3 linked regions of the Homo sapiens genome follow. The protein of the gene in region 3 interacts with the protein of the main gene of each other region in a biochemical or structural test. Each region holds a gene or a part of one and is shown on either strand. Other genes may lie near its edges. The genes, in order: ERBB3, RAC1 and CHN2.

Region 1 (3,651 bases), on a different chromosome or scaffold from region 3:
CTTTTTCCTGGCTGGCCCCCAGACAAGCAGTTCTTATCACAGAATTCCTCCAGGCTTCTCTCACCTTGGCAATTTGTACTCCCCAGTTGAGCAGCAGCTGTGGCCCCAGTGCCCCCCGGTGTTGTCTCACATGATCCAGCAGAGAACCCAGAGGCAAATATTGAGTGACAAGCTGCAGAGATGACCCTGGGCATAGTCCCAGCAGCCTTACAATGTGGGCATGGTCCAGGCTGCCAATGGCCAGCATATGCTAAGAGACACAAAAGGTATTATCTAGGAAACCAACAGGTTCACATACACTCAGCATGTGCACAGCCAGCCCAGGCCCCCCCACCCCCAACATTCTGGCTAACATAGTAGCTGCTGAGAAGCACAGGACCCTGCTTCTACATGATTGTATCTAATATTGTCCTCTCTCCTAGCGGCATACAGAATTTCCTTCACTTACATCTGTCACAGCTTGAAAACTCTGCCGTCCACTCTTGTCCTCAATGACTTTAATGCAGACTGGAATCTTGATTGATTCACCCTCAGGGATCCACACTCCCTGGGAAGTTTGGGGCAGGAGTTGGCATAAGGTCATTCTCCCTAGGTCAATCCTATGCAAAAATCTTTCACCCCTTTGCCCTAGATGCCTTCCCCACCTCTCCAGAATTCCTATGGGTCACTCACTTTGTGCACAGTTCCAAAGACACCCGAGCCAAGCACTTTAAGCTTCCTTAGCTCTGTCTCTTTGAAGATTCTGGCCAAGACTTTGTTAGCCTTCTCACTGGGGTCCAGAGGCTCTATGCTCTGAGGAGCAAATGGGAAGGAGTTACTCAGGAAAGGCCATTCCCATGTCCCACTCCAACCCGCTCCTCATAGGTGAATGCCAAAAGCAGCACAGCTGAAAGGGCAGGAAGAGGAAGCACCGTTAGTCCTGGAATGGATTATAGGCATATTGAGGTACAGACCCTGAGAACTGAGGAAGTTATTTGTGCTCATGAGATCAGGAATCAAAGGGGTTGGGTTTTCCCTTTGATGGAGGAGCACAAAGTGGGGAAGGGGACAGCTAGGGAGAGTTGGTAGTACTATTACCACCTTGAGTACCTTTTATACAGTGCTCTGTGCTTTCCAAAGCACTTTCACATACATCATCCCCCTTTACCCTTACAGCCATCCTGGAAGGACAAATGTTATTTCCTCTGTATAGATGCATAAACCGAGGCACAGAGAAGATAAGTAACTTCTTCAAAGTCATGTGGCAAATTAATGGCAAAATCAGGACTAGAATGCATGCCTCCCATTTCTCTGACCAGTGTTCTTCTAGGGGACCACACTACTTCCTTGAAGAAAGGGATCAAATCTCTGGGGAAAGAGGAGGGGAGTGACATTTATCCCATCACTGACCCCTGGGTGCACAGGGTACCACTCAAAATTAAGCTATAAAGAGACTTCCAGGACATGCAAAAAAAGAAAAGAAAAAACAAAAGTAAGCTAAGTACTCACCTCACCCCGTTCCAAGTATCGCCTCATAGCCCTTTTATTCTGAATCCGGCGCCCACGCCAGTAGAGAAAAGTGCCGCCCAGCATCATGAAAATCACTACCAATCCTGCTATCACTGTCAAAGCCATTGTCAGATGGGTTTTGCTATGGGATATATAGAAACCCAACATTATCCTGGGTTTGCATCTTCCTTACAAATGTCAACTATACTTGTGTTGAAGGTATGATGCTGACCTGGGGCAAGAAATTAACATTCACATATATATCCTTAAGCACTGAAGGGACCAACCTAAATCTGGACCAGTCTTAGACTACTGAAAGTTAATTTTAGGAAGGGAAGTCCAGAAGCCTGCATTCTTGAGTCCCAAGTGTCCAGTGATAGTGGACTGCATACATAAAAGGCCAGAATGAAGACAGCCTCCCTCTTCTCTCCAGGTAACCACCTCTCTCCCAACTCCCAAATATCCCCAGTTTCCAGAATCTCCAACCCCATCATACCCGATCAGCACCAGTGTTTGTCCTAAACAGTCTTGAAGCTCTGGTCCTTTACACCTAGGGAAGAAAGTCACCACCTTAAATGAGAGCTTGGACAGCAGAGGCTCAATTTCAACAGCCTAACATATAAAAGCTTGTTTCAGAACTTACCGTGGCATCCCATCCTGGAGCCCAGAGCTGATCCCAAGACATGGCCTCCACCTCCAGCTCACTAGCTCTCCCCAAGCCCCTCTTCTGTGAAACTCCCTTGAACTGAGGTTATTCCAGGTTCCCAAAACTGTGGTGTAATTTTGTGCTGTTACTGATTTTCCCTTTCTCCAATCCTTCGCTACACAGCTGGGAGTGATTCTTTTTTTTTTTTTGAGACAGAGTTTCACTCTTGTTGCCCAGGCTGGAGTACAATGATGCAATCTCAGCTCACCGCAACCTCTGCCTCCTGGGTTCAAGAAATTCTCCTGCCTCAGCCTCCCGCGTAGCTGGGATTACAGGCATGCGCCACCACGCCGGGCTAATTTTAAATTTTTGGTAGAGACAGGGTTTCTCCATATTGGTCAGGCTGGTCTCGAACTCCCGACCTCAGGTGATCCACCCACCTCGGCCTCCCACAGTGCTGGGATTACAGGTGTGAGCCACTGCGCCCGGCCAGCTGGGAGTGATTCTTGAATCACAGCCTCTCTCTTCTTTCTGCTTCCCTCACTCTAGTTCTGTGCTCCTACCCTTCCACCTGACCCCCTCTCCTTATTATCCCATCACTGACCCCTGGGTGCAGTTCTCATGGCAGGGCCGACATTCATTCTGAACATCTGGGTACTTGTAGATTGGGCCCTTGGCACCTAGGACTCCATGGGGGCAGCTGCTCACACAGTGGGGCCCATCTCGAAAATGGGCACATTGAGCACAAGTATCAGAGCCCTGAGTGGAAGAGAGAAGGTCAGGAAGAATCAGATCCCAAGGTCAATTCCATACCTCCCAGCAAAGACCAACCCAGACATTCAGGATCTTCTATCTGCAGGCCCTAGCATTATCTGGCCTCTCTGTGCTATCCTTAGCCATATCATTCCCCAGATGCTCCAAGTATTGCCCCTTCTCTGTCTCCCTTGGAGATCCTGGTGCTACTAGTATACCGAGCCATTGCATGTGGCAGTGCCCTCCATGGGTTGGCATTCCGGGTGGCAGGAGAAGCATTCGGCCTCATGGGCAAATTCTCGAGGCTCCCTGTAGTGGGGAATAAAGGGAGGGGGGGGTCACTTCCAAGTCCTGACCTTCATGCTCCGATCTCACAACCACAGGTCTCCTACCTCAATCCCACCAAGGCACATGCAGAAAGCTGTCTAAAGACTTTTATTGTATGCCACCTGAACAGTTCCATTGCAGGGCCCCACCCCCACCCATCCTTGACTGGCTCCCCTTACTGTACCCATTCAGAAAGTTGCAGTGGGTCACACAGACACCTCCTCGGCTATAATTTCGACAGGACAAGCACTGACCAGGGCCTGGGCCCCAGCATCCCCCAGAGGAGCACAGTGGGTCACACACTTTGCCCTCTGCCACTGGAAAGGAAGGGGTGGGTTAGGAGAGGAGTCTGAGGACTCCCAGCAAGCCCTCTCTTCATTATTCTTCCTCGTTACTGCTTCCAGCCTAACAGCCCCCTTCTCCTTGGTTCCATCCCT
Region 2 (3,651 bases), about 23 Mb from region 3:
TATAACCTCTTATCGATTCTTTATTAGAATTTTGTCTTAACCCTCCGGAGAGATCCAAAAGCATACAATAGATTCTAACATATCTTCGATGACAAATGCCACTGAAACACTCCACGCTACCTGGTCAAAAGCAGGCGTTAAGTTCAACGATGGTGAAGACAGAGGTCAGGGAGATCCTGAGGGGGGGCAACAACGTGCTCCTCCTCCCATGGCAGCACCCACCAGAATCTACAACAGCTGGCACAGCCGGAGATGTTCTGCACTGTCCCTTACCGCAAAGGCAGGCGGGAGCCACGGGCACTTTCAAGTGCTCCATCCGAGTTCTCAGACACAGCCTAGTTGAAGCCACAGCATACAGGAAAAGGACCCGTCTGTAAATGATGCCTGCCAAAGGGCTCTCCCAGAACATAGCCGGGCCTCAGGGTTTTAATGCTGCCAGAACATTCCAAGTCTCCTATGCAGAAATGTTCCTATCTTCCACCTAGTTCTGGGAGACTGGTTTGAATGTACAGACTTGCATTATCAAAATCAGCACTGTTGCTGACACTAAGACCTCCAATTCTGGGCTACTTTGTAGGTCTGGGGGAAGCCACCCCTTAAGGACAAGCGTTTTTGAGACGGAGTCTTGCTCTGTTGCCCAGGCTGGAGTGCAATGGTGAGATCTCAGCTCACTGCAACCTCTGCCTCCTGGGTTCAAGCGATTCTCCTGCCTTAGCCTCCCAAGTAGCTGGGACTACAGGCACACACCACCACGCCCAGCTAATTTTTTGTATTTTTAGTAGAGACCAGGTTTCACCATGTTGGCCAGGCTGGTCTCAAACTCTTGACCTCAGGTGCTCCACCCACCTTGGCTTCCCAACGTGCTGGGATTACAGGCATGAGCCACCACTTTCAGCCATGGACAAATTTTAGAAGTGACACTTCCAGTGTTTATCACAATGCTGTCAATTCATTTCTTTGTTCCAATAAAAACTGACAAACTCGCTCTTCCAACATAGAACCCTGGAACTCTTTTAAGAAAAGCGCTCACGCCTCTAATCCCAACACCTTGGGAGGCCGAGGCAGGTGGATCACGAGGTCAGGAGTTCAAGGCCAACCTGGCCAAGATGGTGAAACCCTGTGTCTACTAAAAATACAAAAAATTAGCCGGGCATGGTGGCAGGCACCTGTAATCCCAGCTACTCGGGAGGCTGAGGCAGAGAACTGCTTGAACCCGGGAGGTGGAGGTTGCAGTGAGGCGAGATTGTGACACTGCACTCCAGTCTGGGTGACAGAGCGAGACCCTGTCTCAAAATGAGAAAATTATTTTAATTTCATCTCACTCAAGCTTTTCTTTTTTTCTTTTTTTTCTTTTTTTTTTTTGAGACAGAGTCTCGCTCTGTCGCCCAGGCTGGAGTGCAGTGGCGCGATCTCGGCTCACTGCAAGCTCCACCTCCCGGGTTCACGCCATTCTCCTGCCTCAGCATCCCCAGTAGCTGGGACTACAGGTATCCGCCACTGCGCCCAGCTAAATTTTTTGTATTTTTAGTAGAGACGGGGTTTCTTTTCTTTTTTTTTTTTTTTTTTGTTTTTGAGAGGGAGTCTCGCTCTGTCGCCCAGGCTGGAGTGCAGTGGCACGATCTTGGCTCACTGCAAGCTCCGCCTCCCAGGTTCACACCATTCTCCCTGCCTCAGCCTCCCGAGTAGCTGGGACCACAGGTGCCCGCCACCACGCCCGGCTAATTTTTTGTATTTTTAGTAGAGACGAGGTTTCAACGTGTTAGCCAGGATGGTCTCGATCTCCTGACCTCGTGATCCGCCCACCTCGGCCTCCCAAAGTGCTGGGATTACAGGCGTGAGCCACCGTGCCAGGCCACTCAAGCTTTCCTGACTTAACATTCAAAGAGCACATTAGTTTCCACAGCTATCTGGGTTTCATCTATGGGCTACTGTTGAAGATTTGTCCTCCCAAGGACTTCATATGGTGCCAAATCTTTACCATGGGAGAGGATCATCGAGAACCAGTTACAAAAATGCAGCTTCCAAAGAGCCTCTGATCGTATCTGTGGCATGCTTTCGATTTTTAAGAGCCTCTTTTTTGATGGAGAAGAGACACACACGACAGGAGCGAGCAGTTCCACTTTCCACCCGGCGTTCGTGCTATGCCATCTGCCTGTTCCTTCCTTGTTCCTTCTTCGTCCCCAGCTAAATATAGCTTCCCAAAACCCTGTCTAGTGCTTCTGGTACTCACTTCCTAGCATCCCCTCCTCCCGGCCGTCGCTGTCCTGACGCTTCACATACAGAGGCTGTGCTGGCTGACCCTGGCTGGGAGGCTCTATTTCTTCCCCGTCCTCGTAACACTCAAGAGGACCTGAGAGGGCACCACCGGTGTCTCTCCAGGGTCTCTCAGTTTCCTTCCTCACAGGTCACTTGTGTGTTCTGGAGCCTCAGGCTGTCTCCGGTCACCGGCCTATGTTTCCAGTCAACCTGAGCACTGCTTTCCCCTTTCTGACTAACCCAGACTCCCGCGTGCCTGTTACACACGTGGTGCCTTCAACGCCTTTGTTACTCCTGCATCACACACCACTCCCTCCTCGGTGGTAAGTGTAGCCAGGGCTGCTCTTCCCACAGCCTCCTGCCCACTGGTGGAACCATCCACAACAGATGGGTCCACTTTCCATGGAGTAAGACAGGGCGGGCATCTGGACAGCTGAGATCTCACTACAAAAAAGTAGTGTTGTTTCTACTTCGTTTTATTCTCTTCCAAATGCTATCCACCTGGATTTTACTTTCAAGTTTGGAATTTTAAAACACACAGACATTCTGGCCAGGCGCAGTGGCTCACGCCTGTAATCCTGTAAAAGGGTCAGGCAGCCCTGACGTATGAGAACCAGCCTGGCACTCGCAGCTTCGCCCTGGTGGAGGTGTTACTATTGAATAGAATAATCTCGCAGAACACTAACATCAGAGAAGGTCACCTGTGTGACTGTGCTGAAATAGGACCAAAAGTAAGTAAACTTTAAAAAAAACAACTCATAATCGTTTCTAAGTAGTGACAAATCCAAGATCATCATACAAACCACAAAAATCACCAAATATCCCCTGCTCCCGGCCAGTAAGAGTGAGGGCCGAATTCCCACAGTCCCCAGGTGCGTGTTTCCCTCGCGGCGAAGAGTAACAACTCTAGTTCTGCGGAACCACATGTGTGTGCCTGGTGCTCTCTGGCTGCACTTGTAACAGCCAACCTCACAAAAGCTGAGGCCTTTTGAAACTCAAAACTGCCAAGCTGAACACCACAGTTTTTCTTTTTATCTACCATCACAGGAGTCTAGCCCACCACTTTAAAACCTCTAGCACTGGCCAGGCGTAGTGGCTCACGCCTGTAATCCCAGCACTTTGGGAGGCAGAGGCAGGCGGATCACCTGAGGTCAGGAGTTGGAGACCAGCCTGACCAAAGTGGAGAAACCCCCGTCTCTACTAAAAATACAAAATTTGTAATCCCAGCACTTGGGGAGGCCAAGGCGGGCGGATCACAAGCTCAGGAGATCAAGACCATCCTGGCTAACATGGTGAAACCCCGTCTCTACTAAAAATATAAAAAATTAGTCAGGTGTGGTGGCGGGCGCCTGTAGTCCCAGCTACTTGGGAGGCTGAGGCAGGAGAATGGCGTGA
Region 3 (3,651 bases):
ATTTCATGTGTCATTTAAATATTACAAATTTTCTAATATATGGTCATCATCATATGTCTATTGTGCAAGAGTTTAATGATAATAAATGCAATCAGACTCCTTTGAATTAATATTTTTTATAGTAGTCAAGTGCTTGGTTTCCATTAATGTGGGAGGTAGAGCATTTTGCGCTACTTTTCCCTCCACAAAAGAGCTACTGAGTGCCTGGCAAGTACTTGAAACGGAAGGCAGCATTTTTCATAATGGAGGCTCTCTGTTAGTGTTTCATTTCACTTTCTACCTCAACACAATAGAAACGTTTGGTGTGTCCAAGATGGTACACTGTATGTGAGTTCCTGACTTTCGTGTACCTCGGTGCGGTGGTCAGGATAGGCATCCCACTTCTCTGCAGTCTCATAAAACCCAAATGATGATATCTCTTGGCTCGGGTGTAGTAGCCAAATTGCCTTAATACTCCCCTTTCCATTTTTCTCTTAATTTCAACTCTTGTTTTGTTTCACTTTTTCCAAAACCTACTGCCCAGCAAATACGCATGACCATAAAAATAATTCGCAGTCTAAGCCTATGGTGTGTACAGCACAACACAGAGGGCAGGCAGAACGGGCCAGGGGAGAGGAGATGCATCAATCACTTTTCTTCCCAAGTCCAACCTGGAGGCGTTGTGAGGCAACGTCTCTTTTGAGTCTACCTTCCAAGCTCTCACAGCCAATCTCAAACCTTCCTCTTATTCCCTTACCCGTCAGAGCCTCATCTTCATGATTAATGACCCTCTTAGGGGTCCCAGCCCCGTGCACCTTCCTAATTGCCACAGCTGCATTTCAGAACCTTCCTCGCAGCACCCTGGGAATTTGACCAGCACCTCTGGAATGCCTGCCTGGGGGCACTGGCCTCCGCTCCTCTCTACCCCATGCCCCTACTGTCTAATCTATGTTGTAGTATGGCTTTTTTTCCTCAGTATGCTTATTTGTTTTTTCCTTGAAGATAGCACAATTAATTTAAAAAAATAGAAGAAAATGAAAACCTACCATATACACTTTTGCATGTGAATTCTAAAAGGAGCTGTTTATTATGCATTTTCTTTTTGCAGAAAAGTTTTGTCAAATAACTTTTTAATTCTCATCTTCTTACCCCCAATTCATGTAAAACATATGAGAGTCTTGAGACTAAAGAAGTGTTTTCTTAACTACCAAAAGGAACATCTTTTATTAGATGGTAATTAGCCTAAAACCTTCAGATTCTGTGTTTCCCTTTATTTTTTTAAAAAATGAAGGGTGTTTTTTTCTTCCACTTAAAAAGTAATACATGCTTCATTCAGGAAACGCACATACACATTTATTCCTAGAAGGAATCACAAGAAACTATTGACAATGGATACCTTTAGGGAGAGAGGAATTTTGCATTTTTAGTTCTTTTATACCTTCAACTTTTGAAATTGGAATTTTCTGCTGTGCACAGGTATTACTTCTGTTTCTAAAAATAAATTATGGCTGGGCACAGTGGCTCACGCCTGTAGTCCCAGCACTTTGGGAGGCCAGGGAAGGCAGATCACTTGTGCTCAGGAGATTAAGACCAGCCTGAGCAACATGGGAAGACCTCATCTCTACAAGAAATACAAATATTACCTAGGCATGGTGGCACATGCCTATGGTCCCAGCTACTCAGGACCACAGGTGGGAGGTGGGAGGATCACTTGAGCCCAGAAGGTCAACTGAACCATTGCACTCCAGCCTGGGCAACAGAGTGAGACCTTGTACAAAAAAAAATTAATAAATTAATACCAATTAACTTGGAAAATTAGAAAATAAAGGAAAATAGAAGAGGGAAAATACCCATAGTTCTACCATGAAAGAGAATCATTGCTAACCTTTTCTCTTCATCTCTTTCTGGTCTTTGTGCATGCTTGCTTTTTTCTTACCAAGTTGCAGTCATACAAATATATTAGATATTATAGGTTGGAGATATTTGGACTTTTAAAAATGATGCATAAAGGGGATGACAAGCCACAGACTGGTCTTCAGGTGCACAAAATTGTCATTTTCTTCTTTTGAATGATTGAATTTAATTTAGTTATTGACACTGTTTGACGCTGTCAATCACTTAAACTTGCCAATTCAAGTGAATTAAAACTTAAGTTCTAGGTGACTATAGTTAAAACAATTTATTATATATTCCAAAATAGCTAAGAGAGGCTTTCGAATGTTCCTAACATAAACAATAAATGCTTGAGGTGACAGGCATCCTGATTACCCTGATTTGATCATTATACATTGTACTTATGTATCAAAATATCACATGTTCTCCATAAATATGTACAATAATTATATATCAATTAAAAATAAAAATAGAAAAAGTATGCATACTCAAAATCAAGAATTAAAAAAGAAACATAAGACTTAGCTGCTTTTGACTGGGCACAGTGGCTCACACCTGTAATCCCAGCACTTTGGGAGACCGAGGCGGGTTGATCGCCTGAGTTCAGGAGTTCGAGACCACTCCGGGCAACATGGTGAGACCCGCCCCCACTCCCCGCATCTCTACTGAAATACAAAAAATTTGCCGGGCATGGTGGGGTGTGCCTGTAGTCCCAGCTACTCGAGAGGCTGAGGCAGGAGCATTGCTTGAGCCTGGGAGGCGGAGGTTGCAGTGAGCGAGCTGAGATCGCGCCATTGCACTCCAGCTTAGGCTACAGAGTGAGACTCTCTCCAAAAAAAAAAAAAAAAAAAAAAAAAATCTAGCTGCTTTTGGGTTAACTGCCTTGTTTAGAGACTACCCCTTTTCCTGTCCCTTCTCCTGGAGTGACCTGGGGCAGGTCCCTCTGCGTGCCCTGTCCTGCTATTGTTACTCTGGCCCACGGGCTGTGTCTTCGACATCCCAGCTTTTGTCTTTTCTACTTATGTGTTGGAATATTGGCAATGCTGTCTGCCCCTCCCACTCTCCTGCTGCATGTCCCTCCCCCCACACCCACCCCCACACTCACTGCCAACCCACCCGCCAACCCATCCGCAAGGCTGCCCCCAGGGCTCTTTGCCCAGGCCATCTGTCCCATCCTCTCCAACCTGGCTCAGGCTGCACAGGAGGCTCCTCCGCAAAGTTCCTAGGTCCAGTGACCTCACTATCAAAGCTCCAACACCTCTGCTCCAGGCCCCAATAAACTGGCCTCCCGGTTCCAATCCACACCTGCTATGCAGGGCCAGTTAGACCCCCTGAGACTGGGCTCTGCCTCAGTCCCTCCCACCAGAACCGGGGATTCACAGAACATTCATCCTCACTCAGAAGAGCATTGCTCCAAGACCTCCAGACATCAGCTGTTGAGATTTAAAATCAAAATTTGGGAAGCCAGAAAGCCTTTTTCTTCCAGGCCATCACTGCCGTACACCTTTAAGAAGCGATTTTGAAACACAAAGCCACAGGCTGCTTCTGACCTCACTTTCCTTGGACAGAAGCTTCAGCTTGGAAGGTCTACTTTTTAAGGATAGAGGGAATTAGGAAATAAATATTGTGATAGGCACTTTTAAAAATGTTATCCTTCTGCATTTGTACTCTAACTTAATCTTTGCATTCCTGAGGAAAATACAAAACAAAAGAAAATTTGTCTAGCTTACTTCCCTTTCCTCCTCTTCAAGAAAGTAAAGGTGTTTTTCTCTGTCCAGA

The links.
Region 1: the proteins of CHN2 (region 3) and ERBB3 interact in a test that uses a peptide from one of them, tested with the Homo sapiens proteins (one large-scale study listed by BioGRID and IntAct).
Region 2: the proteins of CHN2 (region 3) and RAC1 form a complex in vitro, tested with the Homo sapiens proteins (2 studies listed by BioGRID).

What each region holds. Positions count from the first base shown.
Region 1 is NC_000012.12:56,093,644-56,097,294, reverse strand, and holds part of ERBB3 (receptor tyrosine-protein kinase erbB-3 isoform 1 precursor), read right to left. Parts: intron 3,532-3,651; coding exon 3,399-3,531; intron 3,197-3,398; coding exon 3,106-3,196; intron 2,894-3,105; coding exon 2,739-2,893; intron 2,039-2,738; coding exon 1,985-2,038; intron 1,631-1,984; coding exon 1,489-1,630; intron 793-1,488; coding exon 673-792; intron 548-672; coding exon 449-547; intron 251-448; coding exon 65-250; intron 1-64. UniProt on the Homo sapiens protein: Tyrosine-protein kinase that plays an essential role as cell surface receptor for neuregulins.
Region 2 is NC_000007.14:6,394,952-6,398,602, reverse strand, and holds part of RAC1 (ras-related C3 botulinum toxin substrate 1), read right to left. Parts: intron 1-3,651. UniProt on the Homo sapiens protein: Plasma membrane-associated small GTPase which cycles between active GTP-bound and inactive GDP-bound states.
Region 3 is NC_000007.14:29,393,756-29,397,406, forward strand, and holds part of CHN2 (beta-chimaerin), read left to right. Parts: intron 1-3,651.